7 linked regions of the Homo sapiens genome follow. The protein of the gene in region 4 purifies or fractionates together with the protein of the main gene of each other region. This does not show direct contact. Each region holds a gene or a part of one and is shown on either strand. Other genes may lie near its edges.

The links.
Region 1: the proteins of KLK11 (region 4) and ZNG1A purify together in Homo sapiens (affinity purification with mass spectrometry; 3 studies listed by BioGRID and IntAct, with this or other methods). This does not show direct contact.
Region 2: the proteins of KLK11 (region 4) and AP3S1 purify together in Homo sapiens (affinity purification with mass spectrometry; 3 studies listed by BioGRID and IntAct, with this or other methods). This does not show direct contact.
Region 3: the proteins of KLK11 (region 4) and DENND11 purify together in Homo sapiens (affinity purification with mass spectrometry; 3 studies listed by BioGRID and IntAct, with this or other methods). This does not show direct contact.
Region 5: the proteins of KLK11 (region 4) and SPSB3 purify together in Homo sapiens (affinity purification with mass spectrometry; 3 studies listed by BioGRID and IntAct, with this or other methods). This does not show direct contact.
Region 6: the proteins of KLK11 (region 4) and TGFBR3 purify together in Homo sapiens (affinity purification with mass spectrometry; 3 studies listed by BioGRID and IntAct, with this or other methods). This does not show direct contact.
Region 7: the proteins of KLK11 (region 4) and VMP1 purify together in Homo sapiens (affinity purification with mass spectrometry; 2 studies listed by BioGRID and IntAct, with this or other methods). This does not show direct contact.

Annotation. Positions count from the first base shown.
Region 1 is NC_000009.12:120,337-123,696, reverse strand, and holds the end of ZNG1A (zinc-regulated GTPase metalloprotein activator 1A), read left to right. Parts: intron 1-242; coding exon 243-311; intron 312-414; coding exon 415-480; intron 481-1,606; coding exon 1,607-1,736; intron 1,737-2,123; coding exon 2,124-2,230; 3' UTR 2,231-2,860; downstream 2,861-3,360. UniProt on the Homo sapiens protein: Zinc chaperone that directly transfers zinc cofactor to target metalloproteins, thereby activating them.
Region 2 is NC_000005.10:115,865,935-115,869,434, forward strand, and holds part of AP3S1 (AP-3 complex subunit sigma-1), read left to right. Parts: intron 1-735; coding exon 736-827; intron 828-3,500. UniProt on the Homo sapiens protein: Part of the AP-3 complex, an adaptor-related complex which is not clathrin-associated. The complex is associated with the Golgi region as well as more peripheral structures.
Region 3 is NC_000007.14:141,660,667-141,664,166, forward strand, and holds part of DENND11 (DENN domain-containing protein 11), read right to left. Parts: intron 2,186-3,500; coding exon 1,990-2,185; 3' UTR 1-1,989.
Region 4 is NC_000019.10:51,023,817-51,027,787, forward strand, and holds the start of KLK11 (kallikrein-11 isoform 1 precursor), read right to left. Parts: upstream 2,801-3,971; 5' UTR 2,722-2,800; exon of another isoform or gene 2,681-2,721; intron 2,327-2,680; exon of another isoform or gene 2,205-2,326; intron 1,883-2,204; exon of another isoform or gene 1,851-1,882; coding exon of another isoform or gene 1,816-1,850; coding exon 1,776-1,815; intron 979-1,775; coding exon 822-978; coding exon of another isoform or gene 818-821; intron 566-817; coding exon of another isoform or gene 495-565; coding exon 229-494; intron 1-228. UniProt on the Homo sapiens protein: Possible multifunctional protease. Efficiently cleaves 'bz-Phe-Arg-4-methylcoumaryl-7-amide', a kallikrein substrate, and weakly cleaves other substrates for kallikrein and trypsin. Cleaves synthetic peptides after arginine but not lysine residues.
Region 5 is NC_000016.10:1,779,772-1,783,711, forward strand, and holds the start of SPSB3 (SPRY domain-containing SOCS box protein 3), read right to left. Parts: upstream 2,801-3,940; 5' UTR 2,731-2,800; exon of another isoform or gene 2,262-2,730; intron 2,052-2,261; exon of another isoform or gene 1,995-2,051; intron 1,961-1,994; exon of another isoform or gene 1,945-1,960; coding exon of another isoform or gene 1,876-1,944; exon of another isoform or gene 1,725-1,875; coding exon of another isoform or gene 1,713-1,724; coding exon 1,587-1,712; coding exon of another isoform or gene 1,422-1,586; exon of another isoform or gene 1-1,421. Other genes in the region: cytosolic Fe-S cluster assembly factor NUBP2, read left to right, coding at 3,250-3,265.
Region 6 is NC_000001.11:91,680,152-91,683,651, forward strand, and holds the end of TGFBR3 (transforming growth factor beta receptor type 3 isoform a precursor), read right to left. Parts: 3' UTR 192-3,500; downstream 1-191. UniProt on the Homo sapiens protein: Cell surface receptor that regulates diverse cellular processes including cell proliferation, differentiation, migration, and apoptosis.
Region 7 is NC_000017.11:59,714,154-59,717,653, reverse strand, and holds part of VMP1 (vacuole membrane protein 1), read right to left. Parts: intron 1-3,500. UniProt on the Homo sapiens protein: Phospholipid scramblase involved in lipid homeostasis and membrane dynamics processes. Has phospholipid scramblase activity toward cholesterol and phosphatidylserine, as well as phosphatidylethanolamine and phosphatidylcholine.

The sequences.
Region 1 (3,360 bases), on a different chromosome or scaffold from region 4:
TTTAAAATACAAGGTAGTAGTTTGTGTAAATACTAAATCCATTGGTACCTGTGCAGAATGTAGGAAATGGAGTTGCTAATTCCAAAAAAACAGCACATATGCTGAGGAAAGTATAATACCTAATATATATGGTTTAAGCAATGTAAAATTCCATGAATATGTTCCTTTTCATCTTAAAATTTGTGATTTAAAAAACATTGATATTACTATAAAGAATTATTGTTATTTCCCTTGATTTACAGAGTATTGTTACAATCACATTTGAAGTACCAGGAAATGCAAAGGAAGAACATCTTAATATGTTTATTCAGGTGAATGCAATTTTTAACTGATTAATGATTTATCAATGGTTTTGTTACATAGTTGTTGCTATTAGCGATGGTTGGTCTTATTAAAATATGTCACTTGATACAGAATCTCCTGTGGGAAAAGAATGTGAGAAACAAGGACAATCACTGCATGGAGGTCATAAGGCTGAAGGTACAGTTTACTGTTGCAGACTTTCGGACAAAGTCCTTTTCTTGGCTGTTATAAAAACTATATTTGGTTTTAAACAGAAACACTTGTTTTAGTACAAATCATCTTTGTCTACTTTCATTTTTCTTTATTATTTTCGTGACTGAAAAGGAGCTTTGGAAATCACTGCATAAGGCTTGATTTATTTGCACAACTTTCTTTAGGGTTGCAGCTAGAACAAACCTGTGTGCTTTGAAATGTTACCTTCTGCTCTCTGTTCCCAAGTACAGAGAAATAATGTTGCAAATCTCACTTCTGCTGAACATTATGCTTCCTGATGCATTTAGCAGACACTAAACATTTGTCATACTCTAAACAAAGTTACAAAGGACTAGAAGAATTCTTGTTCTGTATTTAGAAACCCACTCACGTTACTTGATATTTGGGTATTTAAGTCATGAAAGGTATTTCTTCTAGGAAGCAGTGATTCTAAAGTGTATGCTTAACCAGTCAGTTGAGTGTCTACTCTTGTGTGTTCACAAGTGTGCACAAAGTTTTTGGTAAATTAAGAATATTATTTCAAATAAATTAATTTCATCCCCATAGGAGCCAGTTTATCAGATAATTCGTTTCTCATTTCTGCAAATCAATACACAATGAGCTCATATTCAGATAAATATAATAGTTTTTCTTTATTTCATCATTGTTCATTGATTGCAACCCATTTCTAAAACAAATTATTTAATATAACCAAACTCCTTTAACTTCTCAACTTTTCCCACGAAAACTGTGAAACATTATATAAAATCTTTAATCAATAGGATATGATACATATTTCATCATTTTGTTTCAGGTTTTGGTTGTGATAAATAACACTGAAAAACCATCCTAATATATGTATTAACTTTATCATTAGAAAAGGGGATTGTTCAAAAAGAAAATCAATACACAGAAACCTTTTTTGAAAATTAAAAACATTAAGAAACTTCTTGTAATTCACAAATAATTGGAATTAAGTAATTTTCTCAGCTTAAGAGTTTGTATTTTTTAAGTGAATATCAGTAATTAATCCATTAACATTGATGCTCTATTTCTGCTTTTAAGTTTGAACTGAGGCTGATTAATGTTCAGTCAATTCTCCTTTGAGCAGGGATTGGTGTCAATCAAAGACAAATCACAACAAGTGATTGTCCAGGGTGTCCATGAGCTCTATGATCTGGAGGAGACTCCAGTGAGCTGGAAGGATGACACTGAGAGAACAAATCGATTGGTCCTCCTTGGTAAGTCTCAAAGGATTCACAGTTTTAAAACAAAGTGAAAAATATATTTGAAAGGGATATCATGTGCCACTTAAACAGATTAACCATTCAGGTCCTCTTTTAAAACTAAATAAGCTTGTGGTCAATGTTTCATCTTTATCACGTTACAACGTTCGTAAAAGCTTGTTAGGACTTTTGTTCTTCTTCAGTTTTAGAAAAGTGGTTAATCCAAGGACCAATGTGACTTTGATGTACTGACCTGGAAAGTTAAAGATGGAATCACTCAATTACTATTCTTTTTGTAAATTTCTAAACACCATAAAGCATTTAATGAACTGGAATTGATAGGTGAACTGTGTCATTTTAATAAGCATAATGTAATCACGTCATATTTTGTTTTGTTTGCAGGCAGAAATTTAGATAAGGATATCCTTAAACAGCTGTTTATAGCTACTGTGACAGAAACAGAAAAGCAGTGGACAACACGTTTCCAAGAAGATCAAGTTTGTACATAACACTAGAGGCATTTCTTATCAAAAGGATTGGATAATAAAAATAAGTTTCTACTGGGTATATTTCAAGCATTTATTTATTACTTTAGTTACGAATTCCAATATACTTTAAAATGGTATTTGTTTTACAGCATACATAAAATGTAGCAAATCAGTACTGTAAAACATTTAACATTCATACAGTTATATATAATATCCTTTTTTTTAAAGAATGGTATTTCACAAAAATATCTTTTGAAATTGGCTTTGGAGTTTACATATACTGAACATGAAAGTTTATAATAATGATGATACAACTTTCAACATTGTCATTTTTTCTTAGAACTTCAGCTGATTGCAGAGATATAATGATTACATTGTTATTAAATTTTTTTAACACAAGTAAGTGTCACCATTTTATGACATGAAATAAAAGGTTATGACTGTTATTGATGTTGATGTTGACGACCTGATCACCTGGCTGAAGGAGTGTTTGTCAGGTTTCTCCATTGTAAAGTTACTCTTTTCCCCCATTTCATACTGTGCTCTTTGGAAGGAAATCACTATGCACAGCCCACACTAAAGGAATGGGGAGTTGTAGTGTACTTTCTTGGGAGTGGTCTACATGATTAATTGAAATTCTTCTGCAAAGGACAGTTGTCCCTTTCGCTTTATTAGTTCGATCATTTATGTTTATCAGTGTGGACACATGAATATTTTATACTTTGGGTTACAATTTAATACTGCTTTATTTTGTTGCTCAAATTATCCCAGCTTTGACCATTGGGAACTCTTTCCGTTATCTCCTGTTCCCACCTTTGACATACCCCCATCAATGTGGGTTTTGTGTTTTGTTTTTGAGTGCCTCCTTACTTTTCTCCTGTATTTTTAAATAACCCCAATCCCTATTGAAGCTGGCGCTAGGAAAACTAACAATACTCCCTTTCCCAGGTCATCCGATTCCTATGCTGATGGAGGAAATTTGCCTCACATGCTGGGGGCGCTGGGATTTTGTGGTTGAATAAGACACCTGGCCTGGCCCTCCTGGAGCTTAGTTTAGTAGGTCACACAAGCAGTCATTGGTAAATTTGGGATTCAAACAAATCTGTTAGGCTCAAACCTGTCTGTTATTTGTCCTCCAAGCTTCATATAAA
Region 2 (3,500 bases), on a different chromosome or scaffold from region 4:
ATTACAGGCACGTGCCACCACACCCAGCTATTTTTGTATTTTTAGTAGAGACGGGGTTTCACTGTGTTGGCCAGGATGGTCTCGATCTCCTGACCTTGTGATCCACCCATCTCGGCCTCTCAGAGTGCTGGGATTACAGGCATGAGCCACTGTGCCCGGCCAGGACGCTGACTCTTACTGGAATATGAATTGCTTGGTCCAGGTTAATAAATGTTTATTGACCCAATCCTTGGCTTTAGATCGGCTTATATAAAGATGAGTAAGATGGATGGACTCTTACCTCAGTCTATATTTAGTAAAGGTTAAACTTAATTGGAAGCTCCATAGTTCTATTTCTTTCCTCCATTCAAATATAGATTAGCTACACTATTTATATCTTTACCTTTCTGATTCAGTTTACTCATTTGTAAGATAATCAGCTTTGACTAGTTAATATCTAGTTTCCCTTTTACCAGTGTATGTAATTCATCTAATATTTTTTCTTGTTGGTTTTTGAAACTTAGAAATGTGTTACTTTTATTATAGTGGTAAATATAAATAATTGGGTTTTTTTTCTTTTTCATCAAAAAATACTGGGTTTTGCTTCTGTAAGGTATAATTTAAGTCACTTCTCCAAGGACCCCTCTCTTAGATGGATTTCCCAGACAGATATTGCTACCTTTGATTTTAAAAATTCTTAAAATGCTATTAAACCTATACACTCCATCCTAATATATATGAATTATTCTTCCTCAGAGTGAAGATACACAACAGCAAATCATCAGGGAGACTTTCCATTTGGTATCTAAGAGAGATGAAAATGTTTGTAATTTCCTAGAAGGAGGATTGTAAGTAAAGCATTTCATAGACATTTCTAAGTTTTGACTATGTGATTAAAATATATACTGTTTAATCAGTTTATGGTAAAAGTTTTCTACTTTTGATTAATTGGATTAGGTGAATTAATTGCCACCTATGTTAGCTATAAATCTAACTTAAAGAATTATTTTTAAAAGATATGCAATCTTTTTTCCTCTTAAAAATTTTGGAAGGGAATTTTATATAAAGGTAATATATTAAATCGTAAAAATTCCAACATTACAGGGAAGTATAAAATGTAAAATAAGAATCTCTCAACCTTAGTCCTTCTACCCAATTTCTTGTGTATCCTTCTAGAAAATAGTTTGTATTGACTAACATATAAAGTATGTTATATGTGTTGACTAACCTACAACCTTAAAATTTTTATTTATGAGATCACACTTTGTATGCTCATTTGCATGTTGCTGGTTCTCAGTATTTTCAAAAGCTTTGCATAGAAACACATCTAGGACAAGCTTATTCTTTTTAATGACTACAGAGTATTCCTTTTTGTGAATGTTCATAAAAATTAGATTACATTCTTTATTTTACTGTTACAAGACTGAAGTCTGTTTTTCAAATATACCTAATTCAGCTAATCAATTTTTCTATTTTTAAAATGAATAAGAATATTGCCAAATATTACAAACAAATACTTTTAAACTAATAACTTCCATGAAAATGGTTTGTTCTCAAACATAAATCAGTCAGAGAAACTTAGAATTTTCTGTATTTTACTGTGTATGATGGATGAGAAATACTCTGGATAACAGGGAATCCATGGTCATAAGGTACTTTTTATCATGTGGAACACTTAACTTGGGTTTCCTGAAAGATTATATCATGCTGTCCTTAAATGTCCAATACATACTTACAAATTTTGCTGTTAACTCAAGGCTTCTAATTTAATAATTGAGACAAGTGTACCTGCTTCTGTTTTTGAATTTTACTTGTACTTATTTAATTTTAGTTGTCTTTGACATTACTATCACTTCCTCTCATCCTAGCCTCTTGATTTCTTATCTCCTAGGAAACTTACCACCCAGCACAGTGCACTGCATGTAAGAACTTGATTAATCTTACTAGGGTGCTATTTGAATTAGAAATTGTGGCTGGAAATTGTGATTGTTCTTTTTTAACCTTACAAAAAATAGAAAGCAAATATTGCAGCAGAGATGAGGCCTCACATCTAGTTTAATCCTAGTTTTGTCACTAACTAGCTGATTTCCTTGGACAGGTTACTTAAATTCTCAGGCCTCAGTTTTCTCCTCTATAAAATGAGTTATTTGGACTAACAGGATTTCTCAGTCCTGTGGTTTTATATGATGTATTACATTCTGTACAGGAATTTTTGTCAGTATTATACTATAGCTTAAAGATAAGATTATATTTTTAAAGGCAAAATATGTACTTGCCGCATTAATATTTTGCTTGCTTTTAATAGCATTACTGGCCTTTTTGAAACTTATATTCTTCAGAAGTTTGCTGTCCTTTTAAAGTAAAGCAAAAGTTTTAAGATAATCACTAAATCGCTGATTCAGAATGGAGTAAAGCCTCCTATTTGTGTTCTTTTTGCCTCTTTCAGGGAACAATTGCAGTCATAGTCTGTAAATATACTCTCAGAATCTTTAAATTGCATGTAGATATTTTTAAATTAAACATCTTCTCTAGAAGAGTATCTAGCATAGTAGGAAATTTTTATTCTTGTCAAAGATCATTTCTCCTTTTGCTATTAGAAGACATAGAAGTAGTATATACCTTGGGAAGTTGTTTCTACAGAACTTATAAGTTTAGTATTATTTTTACTGTGTAAGAAATAGATGCTGGCCAGGCGCAGTGGCTCACGCCTGTAATCCTAGCATTTTGGGAGGCCTAGGCGTGCAGATCTCCTGAGCTCAGGAGTTCGAGACCAGCCTGGGCAACATGGTGAAACCCCATCTCTACTAAAAGTACAAAAATCAGCCAGGTGTGGTGGTGTGCGCCTGTAATTGCAGCTACTTTGGTGGCTGAGGCAGGAGAATTGCTTGAAGCCAGGAGGCAGAGGCTGCAGTGAGCTGAGATAGCACCATTGCACTCCAGCCTGGGTGACAGAGTGAAACTCTGTCTCAAAAAGAAAGAGAGAGAGAGAGACAGAGAAAGAGAGGATGAAGGGAGGGAGGGAGGGAAGGAAGGAAGGAAGGGAGGGAGGGAGGGAGGGAGGGAGGGAGGGAGAGATGCCATTTTCCCATATTCTGTTGGGATGGATGTTAGTTTAATTTTGGTTACATATAGCCTTGATTGTAAATTATGTAAGTGTTTAGGGGTCTTTTAAGAAGGTGAATTCATTATTGTAAACTTAACTATGAAATAGCTAAACTATATTTAGAAAAATATGTTTGGAATGATTCCTAAATTATTATTTCTAAAATACTAAAATTCCAGTCATTATAAATAAAAGTATTTCATGAAAGAGTTTAGTATCTTAGCTCAGTTTTCTTGCATTTATGTCAAAACAATGTAATTTTGGAAGAGATCTTGACGGTAAATCTATCCAAAACTTAAGAAGTGTCATTCTTCTTTTTTTTCTGGTTGATAATCAGTCTTAAGCTGTGTAACTTACTGTGACGTATGGAGTTAAATCTAGTAAGCACTTACAAATGCCCCATGATCTAATTTCCGCC
Region 3 (3,500 bases), on a different chromosome or scaffold from region 4:
CACTTCTACTCCTGCCTCTAACCACCTACCCCCAGCTTAAAACACCCTGAACCTCAGGATACCACGAAAAATAACCATTACTTGACAGAAAGGACCCCTCAACCCTTGAGAGGCAAGAAGAGAGGGTTGCATGTAAAGGAGAATAAAAGGTGAGGCTTCAACCTCGAAACACAGATTTTTTTTTCTTTTGTAAACATACACATTACTGAAATGACAGCAACCCACATTGCAGAGGAGAAAAGTCTATTAGCTGTACAGTTTACATTTCAATGCCCAAACTTATTTATATATTTACATAAAGATGCTACCTTGATTAATCAATGTCTATTTGCATTTCCACATGTGAATTTCTTCAGTTTTGATATTCCATATGAAGGAGCTACAGTGAAAACACTTTTGAATAAAGCAGTGAACCCTAAGAATCTTATCTTGAGATGAGATGTGTGAACCACCATTTGAATGTTATTTCTCCCTGCTGTGTACATTAGTCTGGCTGGGTGTTGGTCACAGACATGGATGCACTGACGGCTATTCCCATAACCGAGCCAGGCGGGAAGGGGGAAAAGGAAGACATTATTTGTCACCAACAACCCAGTATCCCAAGTCAAAATTCTCAACTATGGCCAAAAAGGCCTAAACTCGACCCACAGGAACTGGCTTTCTAACTGGTTGACAAACACGTAAGCTGCCCTCCTGCAAAAGCCAACCAGAGAACAGGCAGGTGGCAACAGGACCCAGCCTAGAGCAGAGCACTTCAGAAGAGGATGGATAAATCCATCAGGGATGCTCAGGGCTTCCTGACCACTGTCCCGGGTGAAGGCACTGCCACATTTTCTCTCAACAAATCTGTTATGTCCCTGGATCCAATTATTTAGCCTAAGGAATGTCACCTCTGCTAAAGAGAAGTGTGTTTGTGAGGGGTCCAAAATGATAAACCGTCTTGTTAGCATCATGCTCCACCCTCTGAGTTAACCAGCTCAGATCCTTGCTAGATTTTGGAATCCAGTAAATCTGTGTTGACCCAGAGGTGCTGCTGCTAATGCCTCCAGAGAATTCGTGTCCAGATGAAGAGACTTAGAGTGGCTTCTCCATCCTGCTCGAACTTCAATTGCTCTATCCTCCGGTAGTCCAAACTTCAGCCTTTAAAAATACCCAACTTACTCCAAGAGCATTATTGAACCCTTAAGAGACTAAACTGGAAAATTAATTTGCTTGCAAGCTCCAAGGCCAGCATTGGCCCTTAGCAATTCACCAATTCATCCCAAGAAGAGGAAGGTTCAGACAAAGAGGAACATTACATTGCATGGCCACCATCAAGTTACTTTGAGGAAGGTTTCCAGGCTTCATTCTATAATTTTAGTTTTCAGCTCACTGATAAGCAACCTCTTTCATTCTGACCATAAGATAAGCTCATATTTGGTGTCAGAAACATCCTTTTTTCCCTCTTTGTGGTCCCTACTCAAGTAAACAGAGAAGACATAAAGTTGCCCTAATGAACAAGAAAAGGGATTTGATCCCAAGACTATAGACTCCTAGAACTACTAAAAACCTTAAAAGATCATCTGGTCTAGTTTCTGCCTTTAGGCAGATGAACATCTAAGGCCACAGGGGACAGGTGGTTGTCTTATTCTCAAATACATCAAGGGACAAAGACCACACAGACTTTCTGAACAGTCCATCCCAATGTTTCCAGAGCTCAGCCTACTCCTAGTGATACAACTCCCATGACCAAGCCCAGAGGACCAGCAGCTCTGGGAGAAAGTGGCAGATTCCAATATCCTAACATGGCAGGACACAAAACCAAGGTGATCTCACCTTATCTCTAGGGAAAAGGGCAGAAAGGAAATTGCAAAAATTATGTTTGTTGGAAAGTATAAACAATATTCCTTTGTGTCAACTTAATAAAAAATGAGGCCCTCTGGGGCCCTGGGGTGAACTCCGGGCTGCTGACATCCCACGTGAAGTGGCTCCCAGTCCTGTTGGCTCCTCCTACGGGCAACAGGGGTTGTCGATAACCAGCATGACATCAATGCCATAGGCCTCCAGCAGGTCCAGGAGAAAGCTCCGGTCTCCTTGGGGGTCTAGGCCCATGCCCCGGGCATGCTCTGCTGTCAGAGTTTTGTCTTGACTGGCAGACACCTCCAACAAAGTCTGAAATATCCGGTTGTTTTGTTCTAGGAAAAACCTGCATTTGGAAGACAAGACACAGGAAAGGAAGCGGGGGGGAATAAAAAGCTCACCAGATAATCCACATATGGGGAACCAAAACTATACTGTTTTGTTTAATGTACTTTTCAGTGGATTCGCAGGTATCTTTTAAAAAAAGAAAAGAGTAAAAGTTAATTATTCAAGTGCTACTAAGGTTAGCAAAGAAACCATTTGGCATTAATTATGGTGTGATTAGGGAAATCTCTAAGCAAGATGGCCTGTCAAAATCCATTTTCCTGTTGAGGGAAGTGACCTGGGTTTAAACACAGCCTGAGAAGAGGCCCCCAAACACTGCTTTTCTCTCTTTCTGCTTAGTCATAGGAGGAAGCAAAAATTCAACAACAACAACAAAATGAACGTGAGCCAACGTTACCCTTGGGTGTTTGCTCTCCCTTGATGACTCTTTGGGAGGAGTGAGATTATGCACAGATCAAGATTTAAAAGTCACTGCTTTAGAGTGCTTTATGAACAAACAAGCTCTGTTCAGGACAGGGTTCACTGCCTAGTTAGACTAGACAGTCCAGCCCCATACAGCTCTCAGGTTGGCAAAGTGCCTGGTGCCTGAAGCGGCCCTCGGTGCTCAGGAATTTCAGACACAGTGGCACATGTCATACCTGGATGAGACTATGGCTGTGCTCAAGTCTCAGATACTTTCCACCTAAACAGGATGTAGGTTTTAGAAGTCCACTATTAGAATCAAGGTGCTACACCTTTGTAGAAATGCCCACATTAAGTTTTCAGCATCAAACCACAACCTCACCCCTGGAAGACCAAACAGGAAGCTGGGAGAATTCAGTTGATGCCACAGAAGGCTACTTCACCCAGCTGTCTAGGAATGAAATCAGTACTGTGAGGTGGAAAGGCCCTGGCTTCTGCACCTACGGGGCAAAGAGATTTCATTTGATTCAAGAATTAAAATTTCAGATTATCCCATAATATTCAGCGCAAGGAACTACTCTATTCAAAGGAGGCAATGGAAATGAGAAGTCCCTGAGTCCTGAGGGACAGACAGAGCTTCCAGGCAGTGGACATCCTCGATGTAAAAGCCCAACAAGGAAAGAAACACTAAGACTCCTGTTTTCTCTTAAGGGACCTGCTTCTTTCCCTAAGTCTTCTGGGTTCCCCCTAATGGCATTTCAGGGCTCAGGTTTGCCTCTGTAAGGAGCCCGGCTCTAAGTGCCCTTGGCAGCAATAAACGGCATCCCTGGCCCGCAGTGAATGACATGGGAGGGATGCAGGTCACTCAGTGCCGAAGGGATCCTCAGGGAGACTCCACATCCACGGCCCCAGGA
Region 4 (3,971 bases):
AAGGTCTTACAACCAGGAGGTTATGGATGTATGATTGCATATCCCGTCCGTCTGACTCCAAGGCCCCAACTTTTGTCCCCACCCCCCTATCCTGACGTTTTCCACACATCCTCTCAACTTATCCCACATCGTCACTGTGAACCGCATCTCTGATGCCCTGAACCCTTCCACAATCCTGACCACTCCCTCCTCACCACCCCCTGCCAGGTTCCCCTCTGGTGCTCCTACACTGGGGGCTGGACGTGCTGCCCCAGCCGGAAATGAGGCAGCTGGTGCCAGCAGTGACACAGCGTGAGGAGAGGGTGAGGGGTCGCACAGCCCAGGTGATGGAGACTGGCGATGCCATCTTCACCAGCATGATGTCATTGCGGTGGTCTTTGTTGGGGAGGCTGTTGTTGAAGCCGGGGTGGGGGAAGGACTCAGTGGCTGTCCGGGTCTGCTCACAGCCCTCCTCCTTCTGGAGGTTGTGCTGCCCCAGGTGAACTATGTAGCGGCTGAGGTGGGAGAGACAGTAGTTGGAGGAGGAAAGGTCGGGGGAGACATGGGTGGGAGAGGTGAGTGACACCTTTGAGGATGAAGAAACATCGCTCTGCTTCCAACCTCTTCCACGTCTCCCACCGAAGCCCCCTTCCCAGCCATAGCCCCATCCCAACCCCATTCATCCCCCCACCTTCAATACCAACTCGAGCCCATCAACCTTGCTGACACTACCCATCCCCATCTCTAATCCCCTTACCAGCACCCCTATCCCTGAGCTTCTCTCCATCCATCTCCCCATTCCCAGCCCCCCACCCCGGCACCGCCCCAGCCCCCGCACCCACGGCTTGAGGCAGTGGGCTGCTGTCAGGAGCCATCTGGGGGCGATGAGCGTCGCCCCACAGAGTAGCCGCGTCTTCTCGAACAGGGCTGCCTGCCAGGGCTGGGAGTGAGGCTTGCACTCGAACCCCTTGATGATCCTGGTCTCTCCCCCTACAAGCCCTGGAGGGGGTGAGAGCAAAAGAAGGGGCTCAGGAAGGAGAGGTGGTAGACCAGGAGGACTCCCAGAAATGGGGGTGGGGAGGAGAGAAAGAGAGTGGGTGGTCTGGGCCCTGGTCTGGTGTCCCTCTGGGTTGCCCTGGATGCTGGGGTCGGGTATTAAAGGATGAAAATACTTCCATAAGGTCAAATGCAGTGGCTCATGCCTGTAATCCCAGCACTTTGAGAGGCTAAGGTGGGAGGATTACTTGAGCCCAGGAGTTCTAGATCAGCCTAGGCAAACATAGTGAGACCTCCTCCCCCATCTCTACAAACAATTAAACAATTAGCCTGGCTTGGTGGCAGGTGCCTGTGGTCCCAGCTACCGGGGAAGCTGAGATGGCTTAAGGATCACTTAAGCCCGGGAAGTCAAGACTGCAGTGAGCCGTGTTGGCACCACGGCACTCCAGCCTGGACAATAGAGCAAGACTTTGTCTCTGGGAAAAAAAAAAAAGGAAATACTTCCATACTGGTTGGTCAGTAGCCCCTGTCCTGGGCGCTTTGAGTGACTGCTCCCCCAACTCCAGCTTCCTCAGCCCCTCCACGGGACCCTTTACGACCCCCTTGACCTCTCCTCCTTTGGCATTTAAAGGGATTATCTAGAAGGGCATCCAGGCCCTCATGACCACTGCTCCAGTTCAGGTGCCTTATGGGTTGTTCTGTAATTTGGAATCAGCCCTGTCACTGTCCAGACACAGAGGGTTAGGGGATCCCAGAGATTCAAGAGGGAGGATCCTGCCCTGCCCCCATCCCCTGCGTACCTGTTGCCAGAGCAAGCAGGATTAACTGCAGAATCCTCATGGCCTGGAGGGGGGAGGAGCGGGCCCCAGGTTCCTCTGGGAACAAGGAGGGACATGGGGCCGCATCACTTTACGGGGAAATCGGGAGGGGGGGGCTGGCTCATGCCCTCTCCTCTCTCCCTCACCTGCTCCCGCTCCCCACTTGGGAGAAACAAGGTTGGGGAAATCCCCTGTTTCTCACAGCACTCAGATCTCCAAACACTTAAAATATATCTTAGGTGTCTAGGGTGGCCTTGGAGAGGGCCTGGTCACAGCTAGAAGCTTCCGAGATACCAAGAACCATGTGGAAGTCGTTGGGAGGGGCTTTGAGCTGTCAAGCCATGGTTCGGCCCTGTTCAAGTCAGCCATGGGACCTCCCCGGCACATGTCAGAGGATGTTTTCCTTCTTGCCTTGAGAGCTGGCCAGGCCCCAGCAGCTTGGGGTGGAAGGACAAGGGGAACCAGACACCGTTCCGTAGCCACCCCTTTTTCATTGTCTTCGCAGCAGAGCGATATGGAGCCTTTGAGGTCTGCTGGAGGGGAGTAGGGGGCTCAGCCCCAGACAATGTCTGGGACCCCCATCACCCGGCTTGCTGAAGCCCTGTCCGCCAAACCCCTGCCCTTTTGAAGGACAGCCAAGCAAAGCTGGGCGGGGCTGGTCGAGGGGAGGGCCAGTGCCCTCCGCTGCCCTGGCCAGCGGGGGTGGGAGCAGAGGGCCAGCTCAGCAGCTGAAGCCATGGAGATTAGAGGTAACTGAGGCTGCGGACAGCCATCGGAGGTGAGAGGTGTAGAGAGAGGCCAGGAACCCCCACCCAAGCAGAGAAGGACAGAGCAGAGGGAGAAATGGGTGCCCGAGTGGGACAGGTGTCCTTGGGGAGGGCTGACACCTGGACGGGGAGGGGCAGCTTCCCTTTCCTCCTGGACTCACAGGCTCTGGGGCTGGGGCTCTGGGGGCCCAGTGGCGGCGGAGACGGCAGTGGCGGCAGCTACAGCAGGTAGGCTGGGTTGGAGCGCCAGGTGCCAGGCACCAGGCAGGCGGGCTGGCAGGGGGGCGGCCCTGGGCGGGCCCAGGATGACTGGCCTCCAAGCCCTGCCTTAATGCCCCGGGGCGGGGTGTGTGTGAGGGCCCTCCCCGGAGGCCTCTGAGGCACTGGCTGCCTGCCTGTGCCACCTCTCCAAGCCCCTCTTCTCCCTGTGTCTCAGCCTCCCTCTGTCTGTCTGTCTGTCTGCAGCCTTCCTTTCCCTGCCCTGAGTCTCTGAATCTGTGTCTCGTTCTATGTGTCATTCCCTGTCATTCAGTAATTCTGACTTTGTGTGATTTTTCTCTTTCTGTCCCTATGTGTCTGTCTGCCTTTCTCTGTCCTCGTCCCTGTCTCCATCTCCACTCTTCTCTCTCTGTCTGGCTCTGTGTGGCCCTTTCTCTAATTCCTTCTATCTTTGTGTCTCTCAGTCAGTCTCTCTGACTGCATCTCTGGCAATTTGTCTTGAAATCCCTCTTCTTCCATCTAATCTCCGTCTCTCTTTTTCCTCCCGTCCCAGCCACTCCCTCTCCACAGCCCCAGCCCAGGTGGGCCCCTGGCCTCCCCTAGGCCGCTCCCTTCTCCTTTGCAAGGAGAGGGGGGGTGTGCTGGGATGTCACACAGGTGGGGCTGCTGCCAGGCACAGGGGCAGGACCGGAGGGTGGGGGAGGCAGGTCAGGGCCTGTGGAAGCCGAGTCCAGGAAAGGGAACAGAGCCCTTGGCTGTGCTCCACCCCAGGGCTCCTCTGGGGCCTCGCTCCTCTGCTGACCCTTCCCCTGCCCGCTTCTCCCTGCCGCCCAGGCAGCCCGAGTCCAGCTGTTCACTTACTGGCTGCTGTGAGACCTCTGCCCGATGACTTCCAGTCCCGCAGCCACCTCAACCTCTGCATCTGCGGAACCCGAGCGCAGATTCCTGCTTCTCCCAGCTTGTTTGTTTTCAGTTAGGTCCCTTCCCTTGGCTTTCCTCCCCTCTCTCCCCTGACCAGGTGTGGAGCAAGGCAGGGGAGGGCCTAGGTTCTGACAGCAGCCAGCCCTGGCCTCAAACCTAGGTGCTTCCTCTTCCTACTACTATGACTACCCTTATGACGTGGGGACAAGGGACTCCACCCCTGCAAGGCTCAGTTTCTTCATCTGAGAGATGGGGGTGACAGACCTGCTTG
Region 5 (3,940 bases), on a different chromosome or scaffold from region 4:
AGCAGCACATGTGTCGAACACTGCCGAGCCCGCAGGCACGCCTGCATCCCACAGCCACGAGCCTGTGAGGCTCAGGCATGTGACCTGCAGGAGCTGGAGGCGGGCGGGAAGGCAGGTGGGGGCCTCTCCCTGGCTGGAGCAGGGAGCTCCAGGAGACCTCAGGACGGCCCCCACCCGGTGGGTAAGGACCCTGTTTCCCAATTTGCCCCCAAGGCCTAATGGACCCACCGGGCTTAGGGAGTCCTCACTCAGAGGAGAGGAGCCCACCCCTCCCAGGACACCTGGCTGAGCCGGAACAGCAGCGCAGGGGAGCTGTGACAGCAGAGAGCAGCACCAGGTCACACAAGCAGCCGCCCCGGAAGGACACGGCCCATGGTGACAGAGGACAAGCAGCATGCGTGTGTCAGACACTGGCCTGGCCTGTGGACACGCCCGCGTCCCACAGCCATGACCCTGCGAGGCCAGGAGAGACTGCTCCAGGGCACATGACCTGTGGTAGCTGGAAGTGGGGCAGGGAGGCGCAGCCACACTCCTGCTCTGGTCCGAGGGAGATCTCAGGAAACCGACTGGGAAATCACCCCCCACAGGGACCCCCACCCCTCCCAGCCTCACTGCGCCCGTCAGGCCAGGCAGCTGCCCTCAGGGTCTGCCAAGGTGGGGGTCAGGGGCCATGGGGGCAGGTAGCTCTGCCTGCAAAGCCCACAAGCATGTCAGATCACCTGGGCTGCAGACAGACAAACACCTGAGCTGTTCTGAATACCTTCAGGTTCCTGGCCTCCCTGAGCAAGTGCAGAAATTTTTACCTTCAAGGATCAGGGTTTTTCTGTTTGTTTGTTTTTTAACACACATATATGTGAACAAAGAGTATGCGTTTGTACTGGCAGAAGAAGCGTCTGGTAAGACAACCAGCAAGTTAACAATGGTCACCTCCAGAAATGGGCTGGGTAAACCAAAGAATTTTTTTGTTTTTGTTTTTTTTGAGTCAGGGTCTAGCTCTGTCACCCAGGCTGGAACGCACTGGTGTGATCACGGCTCACTGCAGCCTTGACCTCCCTGGCTCAAGCAATCCTCCCAGCTCAGCCTCCTGAGTCGTTGGGACTACAGGCACGTGCCACCACGCCTGACACATTTTTTAAATTTTTGTAGAGACAGTGTTTCACCATGTTGCCCAGGCAGGTCTCAAACTCCTGGGCTCAAGTGGTCCTCCAGCTTCAGCCTCCCAAAGTGCTAGGATTATAGGTGTGAGCCACAGTGCCCAGCCCCGTAGTGGAGAATTTCTGTTGAATGAACCAAAAGCAACTGCCAACCTCTCCATGCACCATGTGTTTCAGAGGAGAAAGCACAGTGAAGAATGCAGTGTGTTCTGAGGTCCTGTCACCCCTGAGGCTGTGTGTGTCCTTTGCCAAATTAAAGAGTCTTACTGAATGCGGTGCATCCAGGAGACAGGCCCAGGTTTGGACTGGTCCTCTAGCCTCAGAAGCATCTTTTTCTCCGACTGATTCCGTGTTCAGGTAATGTCTGCCTGCCTGCCTAGGGCATCTCCACACCTTAGGCCAGCCACGTCCGCCTCGCCCGCTGGAACCTACCTGCCCATCAGAGTCGTAGCCCCAGTTAGTGGAGCCTGCTAGAGCCACGGCCCGGGCATCTGCGTCTCGGCGGGCTGCACTCAGGACGAAGTGCCAGGCCCTGCTGTTCCGGGGGCGTCTGGCCATGGTGGAAAGAATCTAGAAGAAAACACAGGCTCTGGGCAAAGGAAGACTCACAGCACTCCCAGCCCTGAGCTTCCAGGCTGGGCCACGGACCCACTCAAAGTGGGGACTGCAGGGGCCGCACCGGTGCCCAGCCAGGGCTCCAGAACGCTTCAGGAGCCCGTACCTCACTCCAGGATCTGAGCAGCTCAATAAAACCCAGGTAGATCCTGTGAAACGCCACCCAGACACCCATGACTCCGGAATGCGAATCCCAGCCCCTCTCTCCGGTTCCACCTCACGAACCTGGCTGCCCCGCCCGCCTGTCCCGCAGGCATCTAAAACCTCCACTCGCTCCTCCTCTGTCGTCCGGTTTGACAAATGGCATCTCCGGCCTCCCAGTTCCTCATGCCAGAAGCACCGTGACCGCTCCCCGACACCTTCCCCTCACGCCCGGCCCGACCGCCGCACCCGCCTGCATCCTCCTCCCGCCACCGTCTCCTGGGCCGCGCAGCTCGCCTTCCCCTCCGCTCGCTACCGCCAGGGCTCCTCGTGAAACACAAATCTTAAAACCTGCTCAGCGCTGGCCGCTGTTATGGTATAAAATGCAAAAGGCTGCGAGGGCCAGGTCTGCGCTTCCCAGGCCACCTGCCTGGCACCTCCCTCGCCAGCTCCGGGGTTCCCGCCTAGCCTTCCAGGGCCGACCCCTGCGCCGGGCTCGCGGCTGGCAACGCCCGCTGGGCCCCGGGTGGGGTTCCAGGGAGGCCGGGGCGGATCGCGGCGCCCGGACCGCCGAACCCTGCCCAGCCCCAGGCGAGCGCGTGTGCAGCGGGAGCCGCCCTCCCCGGCGGCAGCCCGGCCTGGCTGTTCCCTCCCGCGGGCGCGCGGGTTCCGGAGTCGGCGGCACCGGGGAAGCCTCTCTCGGGCGCGGCCCTCCGGAGAGGAACAAAGGCGGCGCCCTGGCCGCGCTGCTACCGCCGCGCCCGCAAGGTCAGCGCGCCCGCCCAGAGCCCGAGACGTCGGCCCGTGCCCCGCCACTCACCTGCAGCCCCCGCTGCGCGCTCCGCCGGCCCGGCCCTGACCCACTTTCCGCCCCGGAGCGAGACGTAAACAATCCCCGCCCCCTGCGCCCATTGGCTCCGGCGGCGAGGGGCGGGCACACCTGTCTCGGAGCTTCGGGAGAGGGGGCGGGAGTCGGGTGACAAAGCTATTGCCGAGAGGTTTCAGGAACTGTCAGTCCTAATCCAACGTTCCTATTGGTCAGTTCCCAAGCGGTTGGAGACAAAGCTCGCGCGCACATTGGACCCGGGTGGGAGGTGGTACCGCAGGCCGCGTTGACCGGAAAGTAGGTCCGTGTCATCGTCTGCGCCGGAACCTGCGGGACCGGATCGAGAGCTCCTCCGGCAAGCTGATTGGCTGGGACAGCAGGATTAGGCCTGTCAAGAAGAGCCACGGGCGGGCACGCACTGCCCATTGGTTGGAAGGCCCTTCGCTCTAGCTGGGAGGCTGACGGCCCGCGGGCGTAAGCGGACTGCAGCCGCGAGCTCCTGGAGGCGGCGGGATGGAGGCGGCGGCCGGTGAGTGGCGGGCCAGGGTGCGGAGCCGCTCCAGGGCCTCGCTTGGGGCCCCGCCGCGTCCCTTCCCGGGGCGGCCTCGCTGCGTCGCGCGCCTCCGGTGCGACCATCACCGGCCGGCGTGGCTGGGCCGGGCCAGAGGCCGCGGCGCGGGCATTTTCTAAACAGGGTCGTTTCCCGCGTGCTCCTGCTTCGATGTGGAAGCTCCGTGATCTCGGAGGGCCTGAGTCGTGGAGTTGGGGGAGCTTTTAAAGTTAACTTTGTTGAGCACCGCGTTGTAGGCGGGCGCGGTGGCGCCTGTGGGCCCCGCTATCCTGGAGGTCGCGGTTGCAACTGCACCGCAGCCCGGGCAAGAGCGAGACCCTGTCTCTAAATAAATCACACGCGCGCAGTCATGAAAGTAAGACGGACGCCAGAATCTCACATGCTTTTAAGTTCTTTGTGGAAGTGGCGCTCTCAGTGTTCAGAAAAGTGTAAGTTGCGCGGGACAGAATTCACACCAGTGGGGACGATCCGTTCGCCAGATCAGCGCCGTGGGCCCTCCTGAGTAGTGGGAGCCGCATTTATCTTCTAAGAGACCTCGAGTCCGATACCAAAAGGAAAACATTCCTCGGACAGCAAGGTCTTGCAGCACAACTCTGACAGATTAGAAACCGAGTGCTGGAGTCTTTTGTTTTT
Region 6 (3,500 bases), on a different chromosome or scaffold from region 4:
TTCTGAGAAGAGCGACAGCTCCTGCTGCACTCTTCTTCTAGTCCATCCGCCCTTCCCTCTGCTCTGGACCTCTTAGCCTTTCTCCTCCCACTTCCTCATCAACACGGAGCAGACGATCCATTCAGGAGAAAGTCACAGTGAAAAAAGTTACATGAGCCTTAGGGTAGAATTTAATGATAACAAGACACATATTAATAACTGATATATATCTTTTTATTATGCACAGATAAAAGATTTAAAACTGTGGTTATCAAAACTATACATCTAAGCATCTTCACAAAATAGCTGACACACTGAACAGAGAAAAGAATACAACAGGGGTGTTCAAACTGGCCACAGGGATTTTAAGGGTACTCGTTTTACCCTCATAGATGATGAAAACCAGCAACAAAATCAGGCTCATTCAGGAAAAACCAGAAGAGAGAAGTATTGTATTTGGAAACTGATAATAGTCCTTTTTAGAAAAACATCTGTCAGTTTCATGAACAACCCCCAGATAAAACAAACATGAAAAAAATCACATAGGACTCACCCAACAAAATGTGCTCTGTTAACACAACCAGCAGTACAATCATCATTCAAACCATGAGGTAGTTACAGTACAAAAAGACTGGCACGCGTGTGAGCACCCCACACACACTCACAATCATGCCCACTAAGAACACAAGCAGGAAATGGATTTACAATCTTATTACAAGGCAAAGAAAAAAACCATTTTTTTTGTTTAGAAAATGCTATAGAAACAGTTTAGACAGAAGAAATCTCTGGCTTTTTAAAATACAGAGTAACAGCTGGTAAACACCACATGGTGAAAAGCTATAGCGTATTATACAGACAATCTGCCTTGGAGTTTGGGGCATTTTAACAACAGCTTCAGCATCAAACAAACAACAAAATGGCCTCTGCAAATTAAGGGTGTAGCCTGCAGAAATAACAAAAGACTGCAGATACAAGAGTTCAGCTGAAATACAACAATACTTTTAAAGAAACTTGTAGTACACGTTATAAAAGTAGAGCTTGTACTTTGTATTAAAACTGTAAAGTGTGAAGCAATTAGAAATACTGTAATGAGAAGCTAGGGAGAAAATACCTTATTTTTTTCATGTTCATTTTTTAGAAACATTTCAGAAATACTTAACGACATTCACTCTCCAATATGAGATTAGGTTTTATCGACACAGATTTCTTGATCTGAATAATAATTCTGACAATGAGACCCAAACAAATAAAAGGTGATTTTTTTCCTCTCTCTCTCTTTTAAAAAGATCTTTTGGTTTGCATCTATAAATTTGTAAATTAATTTTAAATTATTTATAAAATCATTGGCAATGTAGCATCTCTCTTAAAAATATATATTTAAATATATTACAGAAGGTTTTAACCCTGTCCTTCTAAGACATCAATCTTTTAATATCTCCTAATAGCTAATTTTCTTTTTAACACGATGGAAAAGATTTTTTAAAAAAGCAAAGGACTGATCGAAAGAATTCACAGTAGCTGAAATTAAACATTTCATATGGAGTAACTTAAATTTATCTAAAACACTTAAATATATCTTTATACACAAATTTTGTAGTAAAATATAGCTATAAGTGACTTAAAGACTCTAGTCTTCTTTGAAGACATCTTTAAACTTTTTTATACATAGAATATGCTGAAACAATACATTCCACCGAAGGTTAGGCAAAGCGCAATATTTTCAAACACAGGTAGCGTAATCTAGGTCCTCCACTCTGATACCCTTCTGTTAAAAAAAAATTAAAGGAAAAAAATTCTCTAAACTCATGTCTTCTTCGTTTGTATATGGAAATCTAGAAATTTTTCAGTAGATCAATGTAGATAGCCTGGAAATCTCAGCCCTAAAGTAATGTTTTAGTTAAAATGTTCCTTATTGAAAAAAAAAAATGTTCCTTATTGAATGTGTATATCTATCAGGTAAGTCATATTATTACTCAACGATTTGGTAAAAATGATTGTCAATTTCCACATACTTGTTTCCCATGTAGACACTGCCCTAAGGTTTTAAGCTTCATCAGGATTACCTACTGAGGTTCCATTCACAGACAACCAGGCATAACTTCCTTATTTTAAGGGCAGTGGGATTTGCTTATGAATATTTTGGGGGTAGAATCTATCTTGTTCTACTTATGGAATTCTAAGTTGTTTGGGGGAAATTCTGGAAAAAGAATAATTTGCAATGAAGCTATCTTCAGCAGTAAAATAATTTAGCATGATAATTCCCCCCTGGCATTCTTTTTTTTTTTTTTTTTTTTTAACAAGGAGGTATCACTGAGCTTATTTTAGCTGCAAAGTGGCATCATATTATTCCATTTAATGAAATTCACCTCAAGCCCTTTTTGACATATTAAATATATGGGATATATTTAAGGCAAGAGAAGTAAGGCAATCCAAATGAGTGCCCTTTTCCAATCTCAGCACTGTCTTGGTGGAATTGGTGACACTATTCAGATAACCAACTGGAGACCGACAGGATTTGCCATGCATTTGCATCTTGCTACAGTTTGGTTTTTATGAAAGGGCCTATTTTTTTTTAAGTTGACATATTTTGAGTGGAAACACTCACCCTACCAAATATACTTAAGTTGCAACTCTAAAAGCATAAGGACATTTTCAAATTTTCTCTTCTTCAACTGAGAAAATGAATGTGCCAGGTGACATATTATATACTTGTACTTGCATACACATAGAAATATATCACTGTGCAAATTCGTCCTTGACTTTATAACTGAATTTCACCTCAAATTATACATTAATTTGCAGAACAAAATATTAGGAATGGGCACAAATCTGTGGTTCCTGATTTTGGTCATTTTCAATTTCTGTAGGCCTGTAAGAAATACAAAATTTGCATTAAGACATTTTGCAGTGGTGTATGCAAGTATGGGAAGAAACAGGAAGCTGATAAGGTCATCAGCATTGGTTTTGGCCCAGGGCACAAGAAAGGAATGTTGCCTTAACACTTGTCAGGGTGCAGTCCCTGAGGGCAGCACCCATCAAGGGACACATCAGACCCCACAGGTTGTGGCAGCAAGGTCAGAAGTGTGCATCCAGACAAAGGTGCAAATTAGACAGGAGGATCGCTTAGAAAGCCTCAAAGCATTTCTTGTTTTACATCTTGGTTCAGATATAAAGAATCTTTGGCCGCATCTCCTCACTGGTTCTACTATCTGGCTATTAACCCTTTACCAACTCCTTGAGTCTGGGTAAAACTCAGGGCCCCAAATTATGGATGTTCTCACCTGGACAAAGCAGCATTTTAAAAACTGGCATGTGTTTCACATTGAAAACCCCCAAGCCTGTGAGGGGCTGGTGGAGAAGACCACCATTTTAGCTTTCTCACATGAATTCTAGTGTGGTACAGAAGCCCAGGGTCATGTTTATACTAGCCCTGGGTGTGGGGTGAATACAACGGGTGATCTTTATACTGAAATTCACTCTGTCTTTACAAGGGAACCAAAATCCAGCCCTCTGAGTCTGGA
Region 7 (3,500 bases), on a different chromosome or scaffold from region 4:
GCCACTGTACCAGAGGTGGGAGGTAGGAGGATCGTTTGAGGCCAGGAGTTCCAGACCAGACTGGCCAACACTGTGGAACCCTGTCTGTACCAAAAATACGAAAGTTAGCTGGGAGTGGTGGTGCAGGCCTGTAGTCCCAGCTCCTTGGGAGGCTGAGGCACAAGAATCGCTTGAGCCTGGGAGGTGGAGGTTGCAGTGGGCCTAGACAGTGCCACTGCACTCCTGCCTGGGTGACAGAGCAAGAGTGTGTCTCCAAAAAAAAAGAGATTAGAAAAAGAAAAATCCCATTTCTCATTTTCTCTTAATCTACTTCTAAATGTTCCTGCAGTTTTTCATAACCAATGCAATCTTAGCAAAACATTTTCATCAAAAAGATGGCGGACCGGCCGAGCGCGGTGGCTCATGCCTGTAATCCCAGCACTTTGGGAGGCCGAAGCGGGCGGATCACGAGGTCAGGAGATCAAGACCATCCTGGCCAACACAGTGAAACTCCGTGTCTATGAAAAATTAGCCGGGCGTGGTGGTGGGCGCCAGTAGTCCCAGCTACTCGGGAGGTTGAAGAAGGAGAATGGCGTGAACCCGGGAGGCGGAGCTTGCAATAAGCCGAGATCGCAACGCTGTACTCCAGCCTGGGCGACAGAGCGAGACCCCGTCTCAAAAAAAAATAAAAAAAAATAAAAATTGGAGGACTAAGAGTAAGGTCAAGAATTAAGATAATGAAGGAATACCAGACTAGAGTTGGGAGATTTGGCTAAGAGTGAGACCTTGGCATTGTCACTTCACATGCCTGATTCTCTTTTTCCTCATTCAGTTATTAGTCACATGGAGTAAATGAGTGCAATAATTTCCTTTCTAGTTGTAAAAAAAAATTCCAACTAGCACAAGGGTAGAGTTTTGGATGTATGTAATAACAACTACTTTTGTATAGTGATTTATAGTTTAAAAATAGGTTAACAAACATAATGCTAACAGCCATCTGTAAGGGACTGTTATTTTTATCCTTGCTTTTAGCAAATGAGAAACTGAGTGCTCCAAGGGCCCCAAATAGCAAGTCGGCAGCATATAAATGTCAAAGCAGGAGTTCAACCTCGCTTTTCCAAGTCCAAATTCAATAGTTCTTCTACTATACAAAACAGTCCAGTGAGAGGATTTTCAGTGGTCACTGAGGAATTCCAGAGTCACATATACACACAAGATGAAAAAACAGTCCCAGAAGTTTAGCTTGTCCTAGTATTTTCAAATGTTCCCCATTACTAGAATTAACAGAACACTCATCCCTATTGATTCTTAGTACTTAAAGTATCTACGAAACTCACGTAGTATCTATGAAACTATCTGAAACTCCCTACTTTACTGTCCCTAAATACCTGGGGCATTTGCACTTGTATAACTGGGGTGAAAATACTCTCACTGGACTGTTGTGTACACTAAAGTAGAAGAACTACCGAATTTGGACTTGGAAAAGTCTGGGTGAACACTTGCTCTGACATTTATATCCTCTATTCTTTCTACTCTAAAGCAACACCACTGTAGGGATACTGAACTTTTTCATGAGCCACACTTATGAATAAGCTAAGAAACAAGTCTCAAAAAATTGCTAAGAATGGGCATTATAAATGACAATCTCTGATAAGCCAGAAATTATGTCAACCTTTAGTACAAAAAAAAAATAAAAAATTTTCTAGGTAGTTAGAAGTTAATGCACACAGTCCTAAATAACACAGGCCAAAATAAAAGAAAAATTTTAAATGCTCAGAACTACTAGAACAAAGTGAATTTAGCAAGGTCACAGGATAAAAGATCAAAACTAATACTTTCCACCATATACTTGGAATAAAAATTGGACTATTACATACTTGGAATAATTTTTTAAAATTTCAGATTCAGTAACATCTGAAAATATAAAATATTTAGAGACAAATTTAACAAAATATAAGCAAAATCTAAAACGAAATAAAGAAAGAAAATAAATTATACAGAGCCTAAATAAATGATTAGCATGTTTTGTTGATTGTTTGGAAGACTTGATATTGTTACTATGTCAATTTCCCCTGAAACGGTTTGGCTCTGTGTCCCCACCTAAACTGTAATCCCGATGTGTCCAGGGAGGGTCCTGTAATCCCCACATGTTGAGGGAGGGAGGTGATTGGATCATGGGGGCCGTTTCCCCCATGCTGTTCTCATGATAGTGAGTGAGTTCTCACGAGATCTGATGGTTATGTGTTTGACAATTCCTCCTTCACACTATTTTCTCTTCTGCTGCCTTGTGAAGAAGGTTCCTGTTTCCCCTACCACCATGATTGTAAGTTTCCTGAGGCCTTCTCAGCCATACAGAACTGTGAGTCAATTAAACCTCTCTCCTTTATAAATTACCCAGTCTCAGGTAGTACCTTTATAGCAGTGTGAAAACACACTAATAAATCCCTCAAAGTGATGTATAGCCTTAATGAAGATCAATCAAATTCAAGCAAGCTTTATAAAAAAAGCAATTCAAATATTTATAGAAATGCAAAAACTTAGAGTAGCGAAAACAATTGGGATAAAGAACAAAGTTGAAGGACTTGCACTAACTGATGTCAACAATTACTATAAATCTACAGTAATCATGACAGTGTGATATTGGTAAAAGGATAGTTAGAAGCCAATGGAAAAGAATAGAGAATACAGAAATAGGCCAGGCACAGCGGTTCATGCTTGTAATCCCAGCACATTGGGATGCCAAGGTGAGAGGATCACTTGAGTGCCAGAGTTCAAGACCAGCCTGGGCAACATAACAAGACCCCATCCCTACCAAAAAAATTAAAAAATTACTCCTGTGTGGTGGCATGCACCTCATGGTATCTGTGGTCCCAGGTACTCAGGGGGCTGAGGTGGGAGGATTGCTTGAGCCTAGGAGGTCAAGGTTGCAGAGAGCTGTGATCGTGCCACTGCAATCTAACAATCTAGCCTGGGTGACAGAGATCCTGGCTCAAAGCCCTCTCCCTGCACCGCCCCCACCCCCCACCAAAAACAAAAACAAAAACGCAAGAACAACTTTCATGTGCTTTAAAATAATTATATATATACATTTGAAAAAGGTGAAAAACCTTGCTCCCCACTCTCCCTGCTAGATGTAACCACTTTTATTAGTTTTGTGTATCTGACCTTTCTTCTTTCAAACACTCCTATTATTGTTTGAGTATGTGTCCCCTCCAAAACTCATGTTAAAATTTAACCCCTAATGTGGCAGTAGAGTGAGACAAGGCCTTTAAGAGGTGATTGGGTCACGGAGGCTCTGCCCTTATGAATGAATTAATCCATTCATAAATTAATGGGTTAATGGATTAATGGGTTATCATGGGGGTAGGACTGGTTGCTTTATAAGCAGAGAAAAAGAGAACTGAGCTTGCACACTCAGCTCCCCCTCCATGTGATACTCTCGGCACTCTGCAGAGTCCCTCCAGCAAGAAGGCCCTTACCCAATGTGGCCACTCGATCTTGAACTTTTCAGCTTCCACGGC